6 separate regions of the Homo sapiens genome follow, and regions 2, 3, 4, 5 and 6 are each linked to region 1. Evidence: fine-mapped expression QTL. A gene starts in region 1. Each other region holds a variant in brackets. All regions are shown on one strand. Distances are between the middles of the regions.

Region 1 (4,093 bases):
GGTGAGGCTTGATCCCTCAAACTTCAGTAGCAGGAGACTTAGAGGGCCCAGTTGCTGCTGACATTGTTAAGCACTGAACTGATATTAGCATTTGCTTAGAAAGACAAGAGAATACCCACATATCCAATACGTTTTAAGTAAAAATCTATACTTCTTTTGTATGTTGTCATTTAAAATAATGAATTTATCAGCTTAATTAGATAGAGCAAAAGTTTTTATGTAATTTGGAAAGTTTGGGTTAATTGTCCCACCTCGAGAACGTGGATGTTTATCACAGGAAATATTTGTCAGAGTGTTTGTTGTAGAAATCCGTGATGCTCACTTCAAGCTATAATCTGTGTTTGCCACAGAGGTTTGTTCTAATTCCCCAACCTTGCCACGACTGACCTGGGTCATCACCATGTGCTTATTGAAGAGCCTTGGAATACTGTATAGACCCGTACAGAGTTGTTCAAATAGGTAAGCACTTTCCTTCTGGTGAATTTTTTTTTTTTTTTTTTTTTGAGATGGAGTTTCACTCTTGTTGCCCAGGCTGGAGTGCAATGGTGAGATCTTGGCTCACTGCAACCTCCGCCTCCCAGGTTCAAGCGATTCTCTTGCCTCAGCCTCCGGAGTAGCTGGGATTACAGGCACCTGCCTCCACGCCCGGCTAATTTTGTATTTTTAGTAGAGATGGGGTTTTCTCCATGTTGGTCAGGCTGGTCTTGAACTCCCAACCTCAGGTGATCTGCCTGCCTCGGCCTCACAAAGTGCTGGGATTACAGGTGTGAGCCAACGCGCCAGGCCGAAAATATTTTATAATAAAGTGACTGTTGTAGATCAACTTTATAATACAATGCGGATTCTCAATTCTTATAACAAAGACTAATGTACATAAATTTCAGTATGTTTTAAAATTAGCCAGTACTTAGTAGAAAGCCCATATAGTTTACTGTAGCACTTCTGCACTTATAGTTTAGGTCTATCTAGATGTATGACTTCTCAGATGCTGCCGAATATTGACCTTTTGCATGGTATTCAGTCTTTGAATTTTTATTTCATAATATGCTGGAACCACGATATTCTATCTGATCAGCAACTGGTCTGGTATCTGGGGCTCATAATTTTCTTTTTCCGCTTCATATTTCAGACAATTGAGGACGACTATAATAGTTTCTCATTAGAAATACATGCTAATAAACATCATGTCTTTGGTATTAAGTGGCAATTAGATGAAACAACCTGAAATTCTGTCTGATACCAAGATTGAACTTTGCTGAGATTACTGTTTCACTCACCGAAAATATCAGAATACTCAAGGGAGTTATTTTTTTTCTTAATGTAACTTTCATAAAGGAAATGAAAGAAATGTGGAGACTGAAAACAGTTGTCTGGTGTCTCAATACTGCATGCAGGTTCAACTACATTCTAAGCAAGTTGACTGTTATAATACATTTCACATTTTCTGTGATTTTGTTTGTGCTGAGACCTTATGCAATTACAAAGCAGATTTTTTACACTAACCTACACTGAGAAAAGAAAACCACCGTTCCCCTTTTAAACAGGAGAGTGCCTCAAGTACACTCGGGATCCCTCTCACCAAGCACAGCAAGGCTTGTGACTTCAAGCACACCAAGCTTGTGACTTTTTCTCCTACAAGGTGCACCTCGTTTTTTCTTACTGACAAATTGGCTTTAAAGTAAAGTTAGTTCCCTATCACACTGGCCCCCAAGACTCCAACTCCTGCTTCTCTTGGGATCTCTGCCCAGAGTCCAATCTCCCCTAAGGCGTGGTGCAGTGCTGTGCCCACACCTAGGCTCTGGGGGTGGGCACCCTTTGACTTTCCTCATATCATTCCACCCTCGACACATCCAAATGTGAACACATCTTCTCCACAAAGTGCCCCTTCACCACGCCAGTTCCCAGACACTTTATTTCTTCCCTTGCCTAGAGTGCTGCCCCCAAAACCAGCCCCCCATCATTGGCCATGTCCTTGCAGAGGCTGAACCATCCCACAATCTGTCAAGGATATCAGGGAAGAGCATGAGCTGGATAGACTTCAGGCTCTGCCAGCAGCTACATTCTAGGGGTGCCCGGACGTCCTGGTCTCTTGAGATGAGATGGTCTTGTGTCTGGAATTGGTCTCACTGACTAAAAGAATAAAGCCGCAGACCTTCACAGTGAGTGTGACAGTTTTTAAAGATGGTGTGTCTGGAGCTAGTTCCTTCAGATGTTTGGACGTGTTCAGTTTCTTTCTGCTGGTGGGTTTGTGGTCTCGCTTGCTTCAGGAGTGGCTGCAGACCTTTGTAGTGAGTGTCACGAGCTCTTAAGGTGGTGCGCCTGGAGTTTCTCATTCCTCCCAGTGGGTTTGCCATCTCACTGCCTTTAAGGAGGGAAGCTGCAAAGCTTCGCGCAGTACGACAGTTTCCAAACATGATGCAAGCACAGCTTACCACGGTTGCCTCCGCAGCCCGCTTTTATTCCCTTATCTGACCCCACCCACATCCTGCTGATTGGCCCATTTTACAGAGAGCTGATTGGTCCGTTTTGACAGGGTGCTGATTGGTGCATTTAGGAATCTTGAGCTAGACACAGAGTGCTGATTGGTGCATTTACAATCCTTTAGCTAGACACAAAAGTTCTCCAAGTCCCCACTAGATTAGACACAGAGCACTGATTGGTGCGTTTACAAACCTTTAGCTAGACACAGAGTGCTGATTGGTGTTATAATCCTGTAGCTAGACATAAAAGTTCTCCAAGTCCCCACCAGACTCAGGAGCCCAGCTGGCTTTGCCTAGTGGATCCTGCGCTGGGGCCGTGGGCAGAGTTGCCCGCCAGTCCCACACTGCACACCCACACCACGCACCAGCACTCCTCAGCCCTTAAGCATCGATAGGACTGTGTGCTGTGGAGCAGGGGGCGGCACCCCTTGGGCAGGCTCAGGCTGCTCAGAAACCCACGGCGGCTGGGGGGAGGCTCAGGCATGGTGGGCTGCAGGTCCCGAGCCCTGCCCCGTGGGGAGGCAGCTAAGGCCCAGTGAGAAATTGAGCGCAGCACCGGTGGGCCGGCACTGCTCGGGGAGCCAGAGCACCCTCCACAGCTGCTGGCCCGGGTGCTAAGCCCCTCACTGTCTGGGGCTGGTGGGGCCGGCCAGCCAGCTCTGAGTGTGGGGCCCACCAAGCCCACGCCCACCCGCCAAGCCCACGCCCACCCGGAACTCTAGCTAGATCACAAGTGCCATGCGCAGCCCCAGTTCCTGCCCCTGCCTCTCCCTCCACACCTCCCCGCAAGCTGAGGGAGCCGGCTCCTGCCTCGGCCAGCCCAGAGAAGGGCTCCCACGGTGCAGCGCTGGGCTGACGGGCTGCTCAAGCACAGCCAGAATGGGCGCCGAGGCCGAGGAGGCACCGAGAGCGAGTGAGGGCTGCCAGCACTCTGTCACCTCTCACTACCGCACTCTGTCCTACCCTCCCATGCCCCTCCAGCACCCTGATCCTACCTGCACCCCGCTCCTACTGAGAGGTGAAGCCCGGCTGGGCTTCTGGGTTGGGTGGGGACTTGGAGAACTTTTCCCTCTAGCCAAATGTTTGTAAATGCACCAATCAGCAGACTGTAAAAACGCACCAATCAGCACTCTGTGTCTAGCTAAAGGTTTGTAAGTGCACCAATCAGCACTCTGTAAAAATGCACCAATCAGTGCTCTGTGTCTAGCTAAAGGTTTGTAAATGCACCAATCAGCACTCTGTAAAAACGCACCAATCAGCTCTCTGTAAAATGGACCAATCAGCAGGACATGGGCAGGGCCAAATAAGGGAAAAGCTGGCCATGCGAGCCAGCAGTGGCAACCTGCTTGGGTACCCCTCGATGCTGCAGAGGCTTTGTTCTTTCACTCTTCACAGTGAATCTTGCTGCTGCTCACTTTTTGGGTCCGCACCACCTTGAAGAACTGTAACACTCACTGCGAAGGTCTGCGGCTTCTATTCTGAAGTCAGCCAGACCATGAACCCACCAGGAGGAACAAACAACTCTGGACGCCCCACCTTGATAGAGCTGTTAACACTCACTGCGAAGGTCTGCAGCTTTACTCCTGTGAAGTCAGCAAGATCACGAACCCACC
Region 2 (4,093 bases), 100 kb before region 1:
CACCTGGCGCCCGCTCTACATACATCAGACCCCGGGCAAGGCCCTGCGGGTGCACAAAGAGCAAGGCATGGTTTCTGCCCCCAAGGAACCTGCACCTCCATAGGGAGCACAGAGCTGCACGCCCAGGTGTTCAGGGCAGAAGAAAGAAAGTGGTCCAGGGTACTCGCAGCCAAGGCACCCTCAAGTGTCCCAGCAGCAGCAAATGAAACTCCAGTCAGACAGTTGAAGCACCTTCAGTGAGGAATCACTTCATGAATCGCATGGCAGGGTGAAGAGAACCCAGAGGAGCCCTGGGCTTGGAGACCAGACAGTGGGAAGCCGTGACCATCGTAGGCCTGAAGGGGCGGAGGAAGAACAGCCTCGTTGGAGCCCAGTGGCCGCTGGAGCCACGGCAGGGGGGCCACCTGCGGAGTAGGTGGGGATCTCTAGGGGCTGAGTTGAGTCCCTCTTCCCCAAATTCCTATGAAGCACCTCAGAATGTGAGTGCATTTGGAGATCGGGCCTTTCAAAAGGTAAGTCAGGTCAAATGAGGCCATCAGGGTGGCCTGGATCCAATCCGACTAATGTCCTTACAAGAAGAAGAGGTGGGGACACAGAGACACAGAGGGAAGCCCATGTGAGGACACAGGGAGAATGAGCCAAGGCGAGAGGCCTCAGAGGAAACGCACTCTGCCTACACCTGCCTCTTGAATTTCCAGCCTCCAGCCTCACAGACTGTGAGTAAATAACTGTTGTTTATGCCACTGAGTCTGTAGTGCCTCACAAACTAATGCAGGGAGAGACACACCTGCTGCCACAGATACAGCTTGATCATGGACAGCATGGGGAAGAAACGCCCTGGCCTTTCTCAACCTTTTCCAAACGCCAGACCCACCCGGAAGCCAGCAAAGGAGTCCAACTGATGTGTTCCATATGTGCCAAGCTCCCAGGACACCTGTGGGGCAAAGAGAGAGGGAACATAAACAGGGAGGGAAAAAATAATCTGCAAAGGCATCCAGTCAGGTATTGAGAAATCAAGACAGGCTGCATGGAGGAGGTGAATCGTGAATGGAGTCTGGAATAACAAATGAGTTAATATGAGTAAAGCACTTAGAATCCTACTTGTCCTACAATAAGAGGTATCTGTGTCATTTTTACCACATATTGATATTTATTACTACTTCTAATTCCTCCTAGAAATACTGGAAGGTTGGTATTATTTTCTCCTTTTTACAGATAGGAACGTTAGACTCAGGGAGGCTGAGCAAATGGCTAAGCCGGGATCCACACTCAGGCCTGCCTGGCTCCAGAGCCACCAGTCCAGGCTGCATCCCAAGAGGAAAAATCCCTCAGCCAGAGGAGGAAGCCTGGGTGAAGGGCAGTTCCGGAGCAGGGTGTTGCAGACTCAGAGGCGTGGTGGCGAGAGAGATGGGCACCTTTGGGGACCCAAGGTGGTACACCAAGGTGGGCCTACAGAGTGCAGCATGGGGAGAGGCAGGAAGCGAGCGGAAGGGAGGCAGGGACAGATGACGATCATCCTCTCCTGCCTTGCCAGAAGCTGATACTCCTCCCAGGGAGCTTGGGAAGC[C/T]TTCCTGGGATTCAGATTTTAGATTGAACATCTTGAGAGCAGTTTAGAGGATGTCATATTCTAGCAAGTAAGACTGAAGGCGGGGAGATCAGTTAGAAGACCTTTACAGAAAGCCAGGTAAAAAATAATGAGGACCTTAACCAAAGATGGGCCTTGGGGAAGGGGGACTGAAGGGTGCTGGTGGAGGAAGCCACAGACTGCAAGATGTGCAGGACTTGAAACTCACTGGATTTGGGAAATGGGGAGGAGGAAGACGCAAAGGGTAACTCTGGGTTCCTGGCTTAGGGAACTTCATGGATGGCGGTGCCCTTCCCAAAGGCTGGGAGCAGAGGAGGAGGAACCTGTTAAGTGAGAAAATGATGATTGCTGCCCAGACACCTGAGTTTCAGGTGCCTCTGGGTTACCCAAGCAGAAAAGACAGAGCCAAATTCCATGAGAAAAAACAGCAAACCCAACAACAACTTAAATTTTGTTAAGTGTCTTACAGCAAAATCACAAGATTTTGATTGCTCTAAAAATGATTATTTGTTCCACCTTTGGGAGCAGTGAAAGCACATGCCACCATGAGTAGGTCATCGCTATAAGCATGTTACTTTAATAATTTTAAAATAAGCAGCTGAATTCTAATTTTGCAAAAAATACTTAAATAAGCATTGGAAGATAAAAAGGTAAGAGTGAAAGATGAATAAGACAGAGTCTTCGAGGAAGAGCTGATGGTGGAGTCACAAAACTGAAACAAAGGGTGGCTAAAGAGGATGGAGTGCCAAGGCCTGGCACGGCGGCTCACACCTGTAATCCCAGCACTTTAGGAGGCTGAGGCGGGTGGATCACGAGGTCAGGAGATCAAGACCATCCTGGCTAACATGGTGAAACCCTGTCTCTACTAAAAATACAAAAAATTAGCCAGGCGTAGTGTTGGGCGCCTGTTGTCCCAGCTACTTGGGAGGCTGAGGCAGGAGAATGGTGTGAACCCAGGAGGCGGAGCTTGCAGTGAGCCAAGATCGCACCACTACACTCCAGCCTGGGCAATGGAGCGAGACTCTGTCTCAAAAAAAAAAAAAAAAAAAAAAAAAAGATGGAGTGCTGAGTGCAAAAGCAAAATGGACTTGGTAGATACTGAGGTTCCCACCTGAACACCTATATGACGATGATGGCTACTTCTGGTAAGTCAGGTCAAATGAGGCCATCAGGGTGGCCTGGATCCAATCCGACTAATGTCCTTACAAGAAGAAGAGGTGGGGACACAGAGACACAGAGGGAAGCCCATGTGAGAACACAGGGAGAATGAGCCAAGGAGAGAGGCCTCAGAGGAAACACACTCTGCCTACACCTGCCTCTTGAACTTCCAGCCTCCGGCCTCACAGACAGCCTCACTGAGAGCCACTTCCAGTCCTGTTGTCAGCAGTGGAAGGTAATGCTGGGCGTAAAGGCCAGATGAAGGCAAGGACTCTTAAATTTGACTGGAAGAGTGAATTATACATGTCATGCAGTAGGCCTCTTTCTAATCTATCATTTCAAATTTGTCAGCTTAAATAGGCAACGGATATTGAGGAAGTGAACTATGCGATGTCCTGAATTGTAGAGATAATTTTTAAAAGTCAATGTATGCTAAATAAGTAACCTCAAAGATGGTTTTATGAGATCTTAATTTGAAATAATTTATTTTATCATGCACCTCATTTCCAGTAGTTTGGTAGTTCTGACAACCCCAGCTGTGCTCAGCAGATAGCCTTAGGAATGAAACGGTATGAAAGAGAGACAGCCTCATCGAGAGATGGCTCTCAGTCCTCCTGAAAGTTCTTTGCAATAACATCCATGCAGTTATACTGTTGGTCAAATAATGTCCCTAACATATATTTAGAGAATAATAAAGATAAGGCACTGTCTTTATTATTTATTACAACAGAGGAACCTATGTGCTTTGCAAGACCAATTAAAGAAGATTCTAATGCATACATTTAAAGCTCTGTTTTATTATGTCCTTACTGAGATTTCTACTCATAAAGAAAGACAGATGAGGAGTTGAAAATATACAGAATGGCAGGAGTACTGCCCCCACTCTAACAAGTAAAAACTAGATATACCATAGAATTGTAACTTTTCCTGAGCGCATCAAATACCTGAGGTCATAGGGTAACCAAATAGTTCCAAATCCAAAAAAAAGACAATTCTTTCCGAGGGTAGAAAGGATTTGAGCATTTGTCCACCAGTGGTAAATGGGAGAAACAGAATCCCAGCTACCGTGCAAGTAGATAAGAAGATAAACCTTCAAGACAGATTTCTAGAGAACAACAATGAGCTAGTATGAGAGAAAGCCACTTCCAGGCTCTCCCCACAGCCTTCCACCAGATTCTCATGAGAGGCCACTTCCAGGCTCTCCCCACAGCCTTCCACCAAATTCTTACGAGAGCCACATCCAGGATCTTCCTCCACAGACTTCCACCAAATTCTCTTGAGAGCCACCTCCAGGCTCTGCCCACAGCCTTCCACCAGATTCTTATGAGAGAGATTTCAGGGCTGCGGTTG
Region 3 (4,093 bases), 28 kb after region 1:
CTATTACATAATATAAAAGCTATTAAAACATATTTGTCCTCAAAGAATGGCCTTGGTTTCTTTGGGCAGTGTCTCCTCATGGAAAGGTAGTGCATTCCTGCTAAGTCATGGACAAAACTGGCCTCCAGGAGCTGCAAGCTGCAGCAGCAGCTTCTCATCTACGTCCGTCACTACATGATACTGTTGTTGACTTTGAAAGCTTCTTTCAGTCTAGTTTTATCAACAGAGCTAGTATTTCATGAGGATCTACTACATACCAGGTTCCAGAAAGCTAAATGCCTTTTGCTTGTTATTACTCACTAAATACAAACCACAACTCTCTTCTCATTACTCACACAACAAAATTTAGCTGAGGGAGATTGAGTGACTTTCCCAGGGTCGCACAGTTACTAAGAGCAGAGCCGTGTTTAGATTCATGTGGGAATACTGAACGCTGAAATGAACGAGCAGAAATATCCTACGTTCCAAAAGCCTACTCAAGCCATTTGTTCTTAAGGAAAATCTTTATGCTAATTTTAAGCTCCAAATACTTATGAATGGCAGAGATCTACAGATTTCATTCTGATGTAAGAGATGATGCTCACCAGCTGGTTACTGCTACCACCCCACAACCCCGAGCATACTGGACAAATCTCTAAGCCTCGTTGTTAGTGCAGACAATGCTGGTGGAGTCTGAAGTTGTCATGCAGTGACTCACTCAAGCTTAGGCAGATTTGATGATATATGACACAGAGATGCAAAGAAATGCTGTAGCTGACACACAGAGGCTGGCTCTGGGAGATGCAGAAGGAGCATGTCACCCAAAATAAAGCCAGACAGACATCCTTAAGGAAGGAGCAAAGGGGCTGCATCTTAAAGAATGAAGAAGAGATTTGTCATGAGAGATGGGACAGGAAGTTCTTGAGAGGCAGAGGGAGAGCATGAGAATGTCGGGAAGGGAGGAGAGATTCTTGCACATCTGGGAAGCTGACAATCCATCGGCATTGTCAGAAGGAAAATAAGGAGGAGGAGTGGAAATAATAAAAGCAGGGCTGTGTGTTGATTGTGGTAAAGAGTTGTGATTCTATCCAGAAGGCAATAGGTAGCATTCTAAAGAGAGATCTTCTAAAACAAGAGTCAGCAAATATTTTCTGCAAAGGGCTAAATGTTAAATATTTCAAGTTTTCCAAGCCATGTTGTCCCTCTCTCAATGACTCAGCTCTTCCATTATACCATGAAAGTAGCCAGAGACATTGTATAACACATGTATGTGGCTGTGTCCCATTACAACTTTACTTACAAACGCAGACTGTGTCAGACCTGGCCCATGCATGGTAGTTTGCCACACCCTGTTTTAGAAAGCTCAGGTTTATGATGTGATGGAGAATGCCTACAAGAGCTCTTGTTTTAAATGGTAGAGTGAACATACACTGGAATTCTATCCTGCTTGACCCAAGCTCTTGATAGCGAAAGGTAGAAAAGATAGATGGTAAATAGATAGATAGATGATAGATAAAGAAAATACATAGCTGTTCCAGAAAACAGAAATGGATAACTTCATGAACCAAAAGCAGAGTAATATACTTTAGAAAGGGAGCAGGCTGGAAAACTCACAGTTGCAAAGCAAATAGAATTTCCAACTGCCTCTTGTAGCCCCTTCCTGGAAGTAGTCACAACCCAGGGTGTTTCGACTTCTTCCCCTGTTTTTTGTTTGTTTGCTGTTTGCTTTTTTGTGGGTTTTTGTTGTTGTTGTTTGCTTTTTT[A/T]AAAAAAATTCCCTTTCCCTGCTTTTTTGTCACAGCAGTCTTTGTCACTTCAAACACCACAAGTTTTCTTTTTCAAAAAATTATATCAACCTTTCAATTAAAATGCAACATGTCTGAAACTTGATATCTAGAGAGGTGATATGGACAAAGGAGCCCTTGTTACTGCACGTTTCTGTTCTCCAGACTTCACCTTGCACACAAGAACAGACAATGCACAAAACCACTTCCTTATGGACTGAAATTCTGAAATCCTTTTATGACTGGCGTTTCCTAACCCTTCAACTTCCCCTCTCCCATGCTGTGAATGATTGTATTGGACATTTTTGTTTTAATCTCAGTGACAGGGGAACACAGGTAGCTCTAATATAGCTGTGACCCAGATGCTTCTGTTTCTACCATGTATTTATTTTGTAGCAAACATTTACATCCATCGTTTTTCACTGTCTTTTGAAAATAATTAGGGAATATCTCATCTGAGGTAGGATGTTTCTAGTGGTTGTGTTCTGAAGGAGGAAAAACTAATCTGTTCTCTTTCCACTGCATTCCAGGAACAGTGAGAGGACCTTGTGCATGAATAATTTGTTTCCACACTACAGAGTGGGTAATAAGCAGATTAGTAAAAACAATTCTGCTTCACTTCAATAACAGCCTCCTCCAACTCATTTTTTCTCAACAAACTTATTTTTCCAGCAGAATAATCCCAGACTTCTTAAGAGAACCCAGTGACTTTTCGCACCTTAAATCTGTGAAATCCTGTTTTCTTACGCCATATGCATAGTTCAAACATACAAAGATGATGCAAAGCCAGACGCATTCCTGAAGGAGCCTAAGAAATTCCTCTCTTTCTGTCTCTGGAATGAAATGAATTCTCTAGACCATCAGTTCTAACCTTCAGAAACCAAACCTGTTTGTGAGATCTCCTTCAAATGCTACTGTAGACTCCAGTGTTTATTCATTAAATTTTTAAAGTATTTGTTTTATTTGGAATCAGTTTATTTGTAATTTTAGTATTTGTATTAATACAAGGGAGAAATGTTTAAGTCTGTCTATGCCATATATGCCTCTGGCTTATTGCCCAATTAATTGTAGCCTCAGGCTAAACTTTGGTTTCTGTTTTTATTTTTTTCAGGACAAATATAACTGATCTCAAAACATCTGCTTTTATTGTAGGGGCTTGTGCTGCCATCTCCATTCCTCTCTCTTTTCTTGCAATCTGGGTGGAAGTTCTTTAATATGAACATTTCAACCACCTTCATTCTACCATGTCCACTATCAGCACATTCAAGCTTATCCAGCCAAGGCTGTCATCTTAGGCCAGGGATTTTTTAGGAATCTATTTTGCTGTGATGCAGCTGGTACCCCTTTGATTCACTTTATCACTCCAGGGTTTTTTTTCATTTTAGGAGCCCAAGAAGGCAGAAAAAGAAGTAGGTGAGCAATTAAACCCTCTGAGTAGGAGCGTCTCCCCTTGCGTTAAACAATGTTGTAGAACATCGTATTTAGTAAGCTCCTAGCAGATGAGCCACGTGGCTGCTGTGCACACACGCCTGCTTGCTGCTGTGAGCTCAGACACCATCATTAGTCTTTTGCATCTCTGGAGGGAATTATAAGGACCACTTAATAACCTGTGAATCATAGAGAGTTAAAGGTGTTTCCCCAAAACACTGATGACAGAATGAAAGGTGAGGAGTGTTAGCCACAGGTCAAAAGTGCAAGAAAGTCTCTCAATGTGGGTTGTTGAAGAAATGCAGGTCTTTTTTCTTTTGGAAGTCTCCCTAGAATGGGGTCAAGGACTCTGCCCATTCTAGGATGAAAAACTGGGATATTAGACACCCTCAGTTATTTATTCCAAGCCTTCATTTTGGGCTCTTAATTAGTTTATTCAACCATCACAATCTCAAATGCTAGCAAAGCTGAGAACTCAGTTTTGAAATTTACTCTTGGGTCCCCTCAGCCAAGAGTGGGTCTGTTCAGTCAGTTGGGAGCTTAGGATTTCATTTTCATTTATCATTGCTAATGGGAAAGAGTACGCTGTCTTCATGGCAGCTGAATTTGCAAGAAACTCCTTGGATGGGGTTAATGGCAGCTGTATTTTTCTGGGAGCTCTGCTTTAACTGGATAAAGTAAGTTCTGCTAAGATTTCTTCCTTTATCTTCAGTATCTCAAATGCTTTCATTTAAATAATCTTTATAACAACTTTTGATGTCTGAGTGGATTCCCACACAGTCATCTATTGTAAGACTTTCTGATTCCTTTTTTTTCCTTTGTTCATTATGAATAAGGCTTCTGTAAATAATTGCATGGTAGCTTTTGTTTGGAAATAGCATCAAAGTAGTTGTCAAAATACTTAG
Region 4 (4,093 bases), 49 kb before region 1:
AACATGTAAAATTATTAAGTGTTCATTACATAAGAATGGAAATTATAGAAAAGTAAATAAAAAGTAATGTAGTATCTGGTGTGATTGAGGAGATAAATGTTCCCATCACAGTGATCTTTATCTTGACTTGAAACATTCTCAAAAGAAACGACAAATTATCAATGAAAACAGAAACAGAAGGCTGGGCCCAGGGCATCAGAGAAGAATCTGTTTGGCAGACACTGCCCCCAATATCTTTAAAACTTTTCACAGAAATTTTCTCAGCAGACTTTACAACACTCCTCCAAAGTATTTCAGTGAAAGGAGTATTACCCCAATTAAACAAGAAGGCAAGGACACTGCAGTTGAATAAGAGAAATTATAGGTATAAATAGGACTGCAACAGCCCAGGAATCTTTCATAATAAAAAATAAGGAAACAGCCAGGCGCGGTGGCTCACGCCTGTAGTCCCAACACTTTGGGAGGCTGAGGCGGGCGGATCACGAGGTCAGGAGATCAAGACCATCCTGGCTAACACGGTGAAACCCCATCTCCACTAAAAAATACAAAAAAATTAGCCGGGCATGGTGGCGGGCGCCTGTAGGCCCAGCTACTTTGGAGGCTGAGGCAGGAGAATGCTGTGAACCCGGGAGGCGGAGCTTGCAGTGAGCCGAGATCGCGCCACCGCACTCCAGCCTGGGCGACAGAGCGAGACTCCGTCTCAAAAAAAAAATAAAAATAAGAAATAAGGAAACAGTATTTCTTGCCATGAATGTTTATGTAATTATCTAACGGGCTTTCAGCTTCCACAGTCAAATACCGATGTCACGATGACACGATAATGCCGCTGGACTTTGTCGGCCTTGGTAAACGGCACTGAGGACCCGAGTTCCTCTTGCAACTGCCAAGCGTTTCACGGGAACGTCATCTGGGGAGTCAACGGCTTCAGGATTAGCAACCACCATCTTTCAAAAGCGGTGTCATATGTTAAAAGGAGCTGGAATCATGAGGGCTAAAAAAAGATGAGTGATTGAAAAAATAGTCATGATGAAAGAGGCCAGGAATGCCAGAAGTAATAACATTTATTACCAAATTTCACAAAAAGCCTAACCTTTTACATATAAAATACAGAAAACCAAAAGAGAAACAATATACTTAGGAAAGTTTTGCAAGGCAGGTGACCAACCATAGGTGTCTTTGCTTATTGTAAAGAGAGCTTTGTCATATCAGTAAAGAAAAGGGGAAATATTCTATTGAAAAATAGAGACTCTCAAAAGCCAGTTCTTGACCATCAAACATGAGACAGATTTCTCAGTTACACTCCTGATTAAGGAAATGGAAAGCAAAATACTAGTGCTGTATAACTGGCTATTTACATAGCATTGGCAATAAATGAAGCTTAATAAAACCCAGCATTGGTGAGGTTTACCAGTCTCCTGCACCACTGGTGAGAGGCTGAGTTGGACAACAATTTTGGCGGGCAATAGGTAATTCCTGTGAAAATACACTTATCCTTTTTCAGGCAACTCACTCTACAGATATTTGTTTTTAAGTACATATAAAAATAGATACATAGAGATACATAGATATCTTTCTACATATCTCTATCTATCTATCTGTCTGTCTGTCTGTCTGTCTGTCTATCTATCTATCTATCTATCTATCAACATTAATTGCATCATTAACAAGGCCAAAAAAATGAGGGGTGGGTGGGGGGCTGAGCCCTCGTATCAACAAATAGAAGAGACTGGATCGAGGTTTTGCAGCTATTAAATAGAATAAAGTGATATGAACTAAATATGCAGGTGGAAGGTTCTGCAAGTCATGTTATTAAATGAAAAAGC[G/A]TGATTCAATATCATATACATACATGCAAACATATAGACATGTGTGCACATATGTATGTATATATTTTTCTGTATTTGTATATATTACATATGTATATTTATAGTTTTATTTGGGCATCACATTGAAGGATTTGCTTTACCTCTGGATACTGGAAATAGGTTAAGGGGACAGGGTTTGAAGTGAATGAAGTTTGTCTGGATTTCCTTCTAAATCTGCACGAAGCACAAAGACTGACGTGTCAGCTTGAGGCTCCAAGGGGACAGAGTTTGAAGTGAATGAAGTTTGTCTGAAGTTCCTTCTAAATCTACACGAAGCACAAGGACTGACATGTCAGCTCGAGGCTCCAAGGGGACAGAGTTTGAAGTGAATGAAGTTTGTCTGAAGTTCCTTCTAAATGTGCACGAAGCACAAGGACTGACGTGTCAGCTCGAGGCTCCAGGGTTTGCTGCTTGGGAAGGTGGGTCCTGCTGGGCTGTGGGAAGTCCACAGGTTTCAGTTCACATGATTCGAAGCACACATTACTATAAGGGTCAGCTCTTATAGGATACCAGTTCGGGGAGTTTCAATTTGACTTAGGAGAGGGTCTAAATCTGAAGAACAAAGCCAAATAACACACACCCAGGTGAGTTTCATTGTCAAAACCATTGAAACTGGCTGAGACCCACACACCCCCACCCACTGCCTGGCTGAGCCCGGCTCCACTTTTAGACATTGCGGGGAGGGGTGCAATCCCGCCACTTAGTCCTGCCCTCCCGCCAGCCCAGGCATAGTGGAAGGAAGGCGGTCAATCTGGGCTTTCTAGAACGATGCTGAGACTCCCTGACTCTGCCGAGCACTTGTGTAATGACTGCACGCGTTGAGGACTGAGAGAAGTTACTCCTTTGACAAAATTGCATTTCCAGGAGTACATTATTTAACTTTGTTCTGGCCCCTGTCAATCTCCAAAGAAAGTACTTCTCTTCATTCTAGAAAGATGAGGAACATTTTTCCCAAGAGCAAATGAAGGCTTAGACAAAGCATGTGGTATAAGTCACTTCTGGGTGGAAAATGGATTGCCTTTGTTTTATATTGACCTATCAAATGATAAAAAAAAAACACACACACACACACACCAAAAAACCAATGTTTTTTTTTTTTTAATATAAAATTTGCTTGCTTCAAAAAGATTGAAAACTGCCAGTCGCGGTGGCTCACGCTTGTAATCCCAGCACTTTGGGAGGCCGAGGAGAGTGGATCACCTGAGGTCAGGAGTTGGAGACCAGCCTGACCAATGTAGTGAAACCCCATCTCTACTCAAAATGCAAAAATTAGCCAGGCGTGGTGGTGGGCGCCTGTAGTCCCAGCTACTCAGGAGGCTGAGACAGGAGAATTGCTTGAACCCAGGAGGCGGAGGTTGCAGTGAGCCAAGATTGTGCCACTGCACTCCAGAGCAAGACCCTGTCTCAAAAAAACAAAAAGTTTTGAAAACTACTAAGCTACTACAGCATATAATGAAGTCATGATAAATGAACATGAATCTGACATAGGGTTTAGTTGTAAAGTACATTCCATCTTAAAAAGTACCTACACGCTAGGACCTGGTGTTCCTGCCTGATTTAAATCTTTCTTTCTTGTTTCCTTTGCTCCTCATTCCCACCATTGCCTGTTTCTTCCTTCCCTCCCTCCCTCCTCGTGCTCTGATGCCTCTCTGTTGTTTTAGAACACATTCTACAACCTCGCAGTGTCAAAGGCTCACCAGCCATTCCCACCACCATCCTGCGGGGCAGCCTGATTATGTTCAGGGAACAATACAGTCGCTCTGAGGAATGGCCCAAACAGAGGCACCCACACACTCCCCTTGCCAGGGGAGAATGCCAGGAGAGACCCTGTCATCCAGTAGGATGTCTGCTGGGGCTGCCCAGAAATATTTCCCCCCCATAAGGGAGAGAGGTGCAAGAGCAGAAAGTCCTTCTCTTGCGAACCTGGAACCCCGTTGTGAAAACACATGGTGCTTTCCCAGGCAGCTGCCGCCTATGTCCATGTTAAACAGTGACTGCTCGGTAGACAGCCCAACTCTCTAGGGATGACAGAACAGAAATAACCTGGTTCTCAGTGGCCTGAGTGGCCGAAATACCTTGGGACCAGCTATCTCTGGACTTAAGTAAACTAGAAATGTCCTTGTGCTTTAAGCCAGGTTTTTGTTACTTGTAAGCAAAATATCACTTTAATCGAATGGAGAAAAGGACTGTATTGAGAAGAAAAGTTACAATTATGTCATGATAATTATGAT
Region 5 (4,093 bases), 38 kb after region 1:
GAGTCTGAGCCAGGTGAGGTGCGGTCAGGACCCCCACAGGGCTGGGAGTCAGGGCAGGGGCAGAACAAACCTTGGAGGGGAAGATGTGTGCATAGTGGGCCTGGAGGGCGGCTGTGGCCTAGTGGACAGGAAGAAGCAGTGGGCCTGGAAGAGCTGCATGATCAGGGCCGGCACTGGTCCAGGGCACGTGCAGTGAAGAGGACAGCTCCTTCTCGGTCTCCGGTTCCCTGAGCCTGTCCTCGGCTTCTCCACCTGTACAGGCAAAGGGGAAGCTGTCCCCATCACACATGGCACACTTGGGGGTGTTGGGCTTTGGACTGCAGCTGGAACATCTTCTCATCTTGCATTTGGGCGTGGTGGGGTCCTCCAGTGTGGGATCCATGTCCGTGGGGTTCCCTCTGCCCCGACCCCTAAAGCCCAGTCAGTTTCTCTTCAGGCTCTGCTCCCCGGGTGGCTCAGCCCAGCTCCTGCCTAGGAAAGCCTTAGTGTTGGGAGGGACCCTGATGACTGAGGAGCCTGGTAGCTCCAGGTCGCCCACACTTTCAGGTCTCTTGCACCAGAAGGTGGCAGGATCCATTGGGAGGAAACAGGCCACCTTGGAAGGCGTCCCTGGGCCCCCATCCCCAGGGGTTGGGGCCGTAGGGGGCCCGCTCTGCTGCGTTGACCAGACTCCTGGGCTTTGAAGGCTCCTGGGCCCAGTAAGAAGGAGGTGGGCGCCAAGGTTGAGGAGGAAGCATCCGAGTATGTGTAGGAGGAGGACAGGGTGTGACCATAGACTGCCAAAAGCTGCAGGTGGATCGGGGGACGCTGGGGGCTCAGGATCCAGCAAGGGGCGGCAGGAGTAAAGGAGGAAGGAATGACAGGTGCAAATACCTTCCCACCAAAGCCCTTGTTGCCCTCTGGCTCCTCCCCAGAGCTGTCCCCACTCTCAGTCGGTCACCCACTCCTTGAACTTGAGATCGGTGTCGGTGGTGCTAAAGCCATCATCAGCAATGACATCATCACCCCCTCCTCCTCATGGATGACCGTGTGCTCCTCGTCACTCGCTGTGTCCTCACTGGCCATGTGCTGGGAATGAGCAGCTCAGGTGGGCAGCAGCAGGGCTGCCCACGGGTCACCTCCCTCACCAGGGGCTGCAAAGTGGCCTGGAGCTCCATGCTGAGTAGAAGGCTTTGGGCCAGAGTATGATGCAGTGCCAGACACCACCTGTGTCAGTTCCCGTAGTGCCTGACGGTCTATTTCCCTGCCGTCCAGGCTGTGTACCCCGCTGTGGGAGAAGGCTTGGGCCAGGCTGAGCCAGGTTCCCTGACTGTGTGCAGCCGTTCTGCCCCACAGAAGCTGCTCCTTGGCATCCGAGCTCTGGAGTGTTTGGGCTGCAACTGACAGGAGTTCAGAGGACGCCCCAGGGGCAGTGGCAGTGCCCGTCTCTGATATGCTCCGCTCCCACGAGCCCTTGTTACACTGCTGCTAGCCCCTGGCTTGTGGGCTTGGCCTCTGAGCTGGACTTCTTTCGGTCCTTGTTGCAAGTGGGCCACCTTCACCTGGAAGGCCAGGTCGTATTTCTGCATCTCACTGGGCCCCAGGGTGTACCACCGCTCGCTCAGCATCTGGCTGACGGTCCGGTTATCCTGGTTGGGGTGACCCTGGTGCGCCCCGCCAGGGCCTGGTGCCGCTTGCTGAAGATCATGAGCGCCACTCATGGGCCACC[A/G]GATGTGGTCCTTGTCCCATTTGTTGGGGCTGCGTCCATCCTTCTCAGAAGATGAGTCCTGTTCCTTGCGCAGGGCACTGAGGGACTGGGCCTGACATCATCTGAGTGGTAGAGGCAACTGGGTGTCAGGAGACATGATGGAGAGGAAAGCATCATCATGGTCATTCTCTGTCTCACTGTCCAGCAGGGACTCCCCTGAGGGGCCCAGGGCTCCTCCTCCATGGTGGGAGGTGAGCTTTTACCAGGTTCCACCACCCCCAAAGTGTGTGGGGTTGCGGGCCCTGGGCTTTCAGGGCAGGTGGCTCCAGGGGGCCGCCCAGGGTCAACACTCCCTGTCCCACCTGGTGGACGCTCATGAGCAACAGCTGGCAACTTGGCAGGTTGTTTTCTCTGGTTGCAGGCCACTGAGTGACTGGCAGGTTGCTGGGCCTCGTGTGGCTGCAGGGAGGGGTCAGGAAGGGGATGGAGTACCAGGGGAACACAGCCGCAGAGTGACCTTCCACATTCCTCCACACGAACATGCTGACGCCACGGGAGGCCTCACTGAACGCAGGCCTGGGGGCCGAGTACTTGGTCCGGGCAGGGGGTTCCTGGCAGGGGCTCACACCTCCTCGCCCCCTCCTCAGCCAAGGTGGCTTGGGCCCAGAGAAGGGGAGGTTGGAGAGGAGCAGAAGGCCAGGCCTCAAGTTTTGTTTTTTTTGTTTGTTTTGTTTTTTGTTTTTGAAATGTAGTTTGACTCTTGTCACCCAGGCTGGAGTGCAGTGGCACGATCTCAGTGGCCTTCATACCTGGCTAATTTTTTGTATTTTTACTGGAGGTGGGGTTTTGCCATGTTGGCCAGGCTGGTCTTGACCTCCCGACCTCAGGTGATCCACCCACCTCAGCCTCCCAAAATGGGATTACAGGCATGAGCCACCGCTCCCAACTTCATTCCTTTTTACTTGAAAAACTCCGTTAAGCATTTTTTTAAGGTAGACCTAGTGGTCCTGAATGCCCTCAGCTTTGTTTGTCGAGGAAACACGTTATTTCTTTTTTCTTTCTGAAGGACAGCTTTGTCAGACATAGTATTAGTTGCTGGCAGTTTTTTTCTTTCAGCACTTTGAATGTATTATTCGATTCTGTCCTGACCTGCAAAGTTTCTTTAACTTTTGACTATTTGATTATATTGTGACTTGGTGAGTATCTATTTGGTTTGAACCTCTTTAGGAATCTTTAAGCTTCATGGATTTAGATGTCTAAATCTTTCCCATGATTTAGGCAGTTTTCAGCCATTCTTTAAATAAGCTTTCTTCTCCTTTCTCTACTTTCCTTCTCAAACTCCCATAACCTGACAATGGTTTGCCTAATGGTGTCTTGTTGGCTTTCTTTTCTCTGTCTCTTTTTTTTTTTTTTTTTTTTTTTGAGACAGAGTCATGCTCTGTCACCCAGGCTGGAGTGCAATGTGTGGTCTCGGCTCACATTGCACTCCAACCTCCGCCTCCTGGGTTCAAGTGATTCTCCTGCCTCAGCCTCCCAAGTAGCTGGGACTACAGGTGTGTGCCACCACACCCGGCTAATTTTTGTATTTTTAGTAGAGATGGGGTTTTGTCATGTTGGCCAGGCTGGTCTTGAACTTCTGACCTCTTAATCTGCCTGCCTCGGCCTCCCAAAGTGTTGGGATTACAGGCTTGAGCCACCACGCCCAGCCTTCTTTTCTCTTTTTTATTCTTTTTTTCTTTGTCCTCTGACTGGATAATTTCAGAAGATCTATATTCAAGTTTACAGATTCTCTCTCCTGTTGAAGTTTACTATTGTGTTATATCACCCAGTCTGGTCTTGAACTCCTGGGCTCAAGCGATCCTCCCACCTTGGCCTCCCAAAGTGCTGAGTTTACAAGCATGAGCCACTGCATCCAGTCAGTCCCAGCACTTTGGGAAGCTGAGGTGGGAGGATCACTTGAGCTCAGGAGTTTGAGACCAGCCTGGGCAACATACTGAGAACTTGTCTGTATATTAAAAAAAAAAAAAAAGTCTTTGGGAGGCCAAAGCGGGAGGATCACCTGAGGTCAGGAGTTCGAGACCAGCCTGGCCAACATGGCAAAACCGCATCTCTACTAAAAATACAAAAATTAGCCAGGTGTGGTGGCACACACCTGTAGTGGTGGTGCATGCCTGTAGTCCCAGCTACTCAAGAGGCTGAGGCAGGAGAATCACTTGAACTGGGAGATGGAGGTTGCAGCGAGCTGAGATTGCACCAGTGCACTCCAGCCTGGGCAACAGAGTGAGACTCCATCTTATAAAAGGAAAAAAGAAAGAAAAGAAAAATTCCATATCTGAGTGTTTACTCCTGAGTTTTTGAGATTGTTATTAAGATCGTGCTCTACTGTGATGATTTGGGTTTGTTTGA
Region 6 (4,093 bases), 69 kb before region 1:
GGTTTCTCCATGTTGGTCAGGCTGGTCTCGAACTCTCAACCTCAAGCGATCCGCCTGCCTCAGCCTCCCAAAGTGCTGGGATTACAAGCATGAGCCACCACGCCCGGACCCTCTCATAAACTCTTAAAAAGAGAAGAGGAGGAAACACTTTTCACCTTATTCTATGTCGCCAGTATTACCCTGATACCAAAACCAGTCAAAGATATCATAAGAAAAGTACAAACCAATATCCCTTATACATATCAATACAAACATCCTCAACAAAACACAAACTGAATCCAATGAGATTCATCCAAAGAAGATAAGGATGCTTTAACTTTGAAAAATCAGTCAATGTAATGCACTGTATTAATAGCATGACAACAAAACCACATAGTCATCTGAAGAGATGGGAAAAAAAGCATTTTACAAAATTTAACAATCTTTCATAATACAAACACACAAAAACTAAGAATAGAAGGGAACTTCCTCCACCTGATCAAGGGAATCTACAAACAAACCACACCTAACATTACACATGTGGTAAAAGACAGAATGTTTTTGCCCTAAGGAAGTCCACTCTCACCACTTCTATTCAACATTGCAATGGAGGATCAAGCCAGGACAATTAGACAAGAAAGAAAAGTGAAAGACATCAGATGGGAAAGAAAGAAGTAAAACTATCTCTGTTTGTAGATGACATGATCTAATATTAAAAATTCTAAGCATGCCACAAAATAAACTATTAGGCATATAAAATTAGTTCATTAAGGTTGCTGGGTAGCAGATCAATATACAAAAGTCGGTTGGTTCTATACACTAGCAATGAACAATTTGAAAATAAAAGTAAGAAAATAGTTCCATTTATAATAGTATCAAAAAGAATAAAATATTTTAAGGATAGATTTTTCCAAAAAATTCAAGACTTCTACACTGAAAACTATAGTACAAAACATCATTGGAAGAATTACAGAGGATCTAAATTAATGGAAGACATCTCATGAACATAGATTGGAATACTCAATACTTATTGTTAAGACGGCAGTACTCCCCAAATTGATCTACAGATTCAATATAATCCCTATCATTATCCCAGCTGGCTTTTTTTTTTCGGCAGAAACTGACAAGCTTATTATACAATTCATACGGAAAGGCAAGGCACCAAGAATAACCAGAACAATCTTGAAAAATTAAAACAAAGTTGAAAGACTCACACGTCCTGATTTTAAAGCTTACTACAAAGTGACAGTAAGCAAGACAGTGTGGTACTAGCCGGACATGTAGATCAATGGAAGAGAATTTAGAGTCCAGAAATAAATCCTTATGTTTGTGGCCAATCAATTTTGACAAATAGAGCTACCCTAGAATCCAGCAATCCCACTGCTGGGTATATACCCAAAAGAAAGAAAATCACTATACTGAAGAGATGTCTGCATGCCCATGTTTATTGCAGCACTATTCACAATAGCCAAGATCTGGAAGCAACCTAAGTATCCATCAATAGATGAATGGATAAAGGATATGTGGTACATATACACAATAAAGTACTATTCAGCCATAGAAAAGAATTAGATGCTGTAATATGCATGGGACTGGAGGTCATCATGTTAAGTGAGACAAGCCAGGCACTGACTGACAAACTTTGCATGTTCTCACTCACTTGTGAAAGCTAAAAATTAAAACAGTTGAATTCATGGAGATACAGAGGGGAAGAATGGTTCCCAGAAGGTAGTAAGGGCTGGGGTGGGGAGGACAGAAGGATGGTTAAAGTGTACACAAATATAGTTAGAATGGGTGGGTGCGGTGGCTCATGCCTGTAATCCCAGCACTTTTGGAGGCCGAGGCAGGTGGATCACTTGAGGTCAGGAGTTCGAAACCAGCCTGACCAATATGCTGAAACCCTGTCTCTTCTAAAAATACAAAAATAAGCCGGGCATGGTGGCGTGCATCTGTAGTCCCAGCTACTTGGGAGGCTGAGGCAAGAGAATCACTTGAACCCAGGAGGCGGAGGTTGCAGTGAGCTAAGATCATGCCACTGCACTCCAGCCTGGGTGACAGAGCGAGACTCCATCTACAAAAAAAAAAAAAAAGAAATATATATATTTCTTTTCTATTTATACATATGTATATATATGAATTAGAATATATGTATATATTCTAATATATATATTAGAATGAATAAGATCTAGTATTTGATATCACAACAGGGTGACTACAGTCAACAATAATTTATTGTACATTTTAAAATA[C/A]CTAACAGATTATAATTGGATTGTTTGTAACACAAAGCTATGACAAATGCTTTAGGAGATGGATACCCCGTTTACCCTGATGTGATTGTTATACATTATATGCCTGTATCAAAATGTTTCATGTACTGCATAAATACATACACCTACTATGTACCCACAAAATTAAAAATTAAAATATTTTTAAAAATTAGGAAATTATTAGACTCATAGATATAATTTTAAATTAGAAATTAGAAAATCAAGCACGGGTGGTTTTATGAGTAGGTCCAGTATTACCCTCCTCTCTCTAGATCTTTTTAACAAATGGTGCTGGGAAAACTGAATATCAACATGCAAAAGAATAAAGTTGGACTCCTTTCTTACATACACAAAAATTAAATCCATATGAGTCATAAACCTTAATGTGAGAGCTAAAACTATACACTCTTAGAAGAAGTACTAAAGGTAAATTTTAATATCCTTGAGTTAGGTAAAGTCTTCCTAGATAAAACAACAAAGCAAAAGTGGCAAATGAAAAAAAAAGATTGATTGGACTTGATCAAAATTAAAAACTTTTGTTCTGCAAAAGACACCATCAGGTTAAAAAAAAAAACCCCACAAAATGGGAAAAATATTTGCAAATCAAATATATTCAGAATAGAAGGGTAACTTGCTTCTAGAATAAGTACAGAACATCTACAACTCAATAATAAAAAGAAAAATAAGCTATTTTTTAAAAAAATGCACAAAGGATCTGAACAGACATTTCTCTAAGAAAGATATATAAATGGCCAACAAGAATATGAAAAGATGCCCAAAAATTATCCACCATTAGGGAAGTGAAAATCAAAACCACAATGAGATATCACTTCACACCCATGAGGATGGCTATAATTAGACAAATAATAGTAAGTATTGGCCAGGCGCTGTGGCTCCCGCCTGTAATCCTAGCACTTTGGGAGGCCAAGGCAGGCAGATTACGAGGTCAGGAGTTCGAGACCAGCCTGACCAACATGGTGAAACCTCATCTCCACTAAAATACAAAAATTAGCCGGGCGTGGTGGTGCTTGCCTGTAATCCCAGCTACTCAGGAGGCTGAAGCAGGAGAATCGCTTGAACCCGGGAGGCGGAGTTTGCAGTGAGCTGAGATCACGCCATTGCACTCCAAATAGAGTGAGACTCCATCTCAAAAAAAATAGTAAGTATTGGCAAGGACACGAAAAATTGGAACCCTCTTAGTTTACCATGGGAATGTAAAATGGTGCAGCCACTTTGGAAAACAGTGTGTCAGTTACCCACAATATTAAACAGAGTTCTTATATTACCTAAAAATTCTACTCCTGGGTGTATACCCCAGAAATCAAAACATATGTCTACGTAACATTTGTACATAAATGTTCATAGTAGCAGCATTTTTTGTAATAGCCAAAGAGTAGAAACAACCCAAATGTCTATCAACTGATGAGTGACTAAACAGAATGTGGTCTATCCATACAAGAGACTATTAGCCACAAAAGCAAATGAAGTTCTTATCCATGGCACGGCGCTAATGACCCCCAAAGACCTTGAAAATGTGAAGTGAAAGAAGCCAGGCGCAAAAGACCACATGCTGTATCAGACCATGGATGCGAAATGTCTGAAAAAGGGAAATCCACAGAGCCAGAAACTAAATTAGTGATTGCCAGGGGCTGGGAGGAAGAGAAAATAGGGAGTGACTGCTCATAGGTGTGGGATATATTTTTTTTGAAGGTGATAAAAATGTTCTAAATTACGTAGTCATGATGGTTACACAACTCTTCAAAAGTATTAAAAAACGCTAAATTTCACACTTTAAAAGAGTGATTTTATGGTATGAATTATACCTCTATAAAGCTATTATGCAAAAA

Alleles and levels. Positions count from the first base shown, and alleles are read on the strand shown. Sizes are in standard deviations (SD) of each study's normalised expression. Not every link is listed here.
For the expression in prefrontal cortex of the gene that starts at base 2,430 in region 1, A is the low allele of the variant in region 5 and G is the other (large effect, 0.76 SD a copy in BrainSeq).

The links.
Region 2: its variant is fine-mapped to the expression of LIRIL2R in hippocampus (GTEx, PIP above 0.99).
Region 3: its variant is fine-mapped to the expression of LIRIL2R in whole blood (TOPMed, PIP above 0.99).
Region 4: its variant is fine-mapped to the expression of LIRIL2R in prefrontal cortex (GTEx, PIP above 0.99).
Region 5: its variant is fine-mapped to the expression of LIRIL2R in prefrontal cortex (BrainSeq, PIP 0.91).
Region 6: its variant is fine-mapped to the expression of LIRIL2R in amygdala (GTEx, PIP 0.96).

Annotation. Positions count from the first base shown.
Region 1 is chr6:178,732-182,824 of GRCh38, reverse strand. It overlaps LIRIL2R (lincRNA regulator of IL2RA), which reads right to left and starts at 2,430. Exons shown (of 2, transcript XR_926349.3): 1 at 1-2,430. LINC03066 (long intergenic non-protein coding RNA 3066) reads left to right here. Exons shown (of 8, transcript NR_126020.1): 7 at 351-459; 8 at 1,130-1,359.
Region 2 is chr6:278,633-282,725 of GRCh38, reverse strand. No RefSeq gene overlaps it. Among named protein-coding and RNA genes, the nearest start is that of DUSP22, 12 kb to the left of the region's middle. RefSeq lists a silencer at 1,295-1,449. The variant C/T (reference allele first, on the strand shown) is at 1,568.
Region 3 is chr6:151,089-155,181 of GRCh38, reverse strand. No RefSeq gene overlaps it. Among named protein-coding and RNA genes, the nearest start is that of LIRIL2R, 27 kb to the left of the region's middle. The variant A/T (reference allele first, on the strand shown) is at 1,743.
Region 4 is chr6:227,705-231,797 of GRCh38, reverse strand. LOC105374870 (a long non-coding RNA gene) reads right to left here and starts at 868. Exons shown (of 3, transcript XR_926357.3): 1 at 800-868. RefSeq lists enhancers at 3,849-3,908, 3,919-4,038, 4,049-4,093. The variant G/A (reference allele first, on the strand shown) is at 1,824.
Region 5 is chr6:140,456-144,548 of GRCh38, reverse strand. It overlaps the pseudogene SEPTIN14P6 and the pseudogene CICP18. Among named protein-coding and RNA genes, the nearest start is that of LIRIL2R, 38 kb to the left of the region's middle. The variant A/G (reference allele first, on the strand shown) is at 1,709.
Region 6 is chr6:247,260-251,352 of GRCh38, reverse strand. No RefSeq gene overlaps it. Among named protein-coding and RNA genes, the nearest start is that of DUSP22, 43 kb to the left of the region's middle. The variant C/A (reference allele first, on the strand shown) is at 2,229.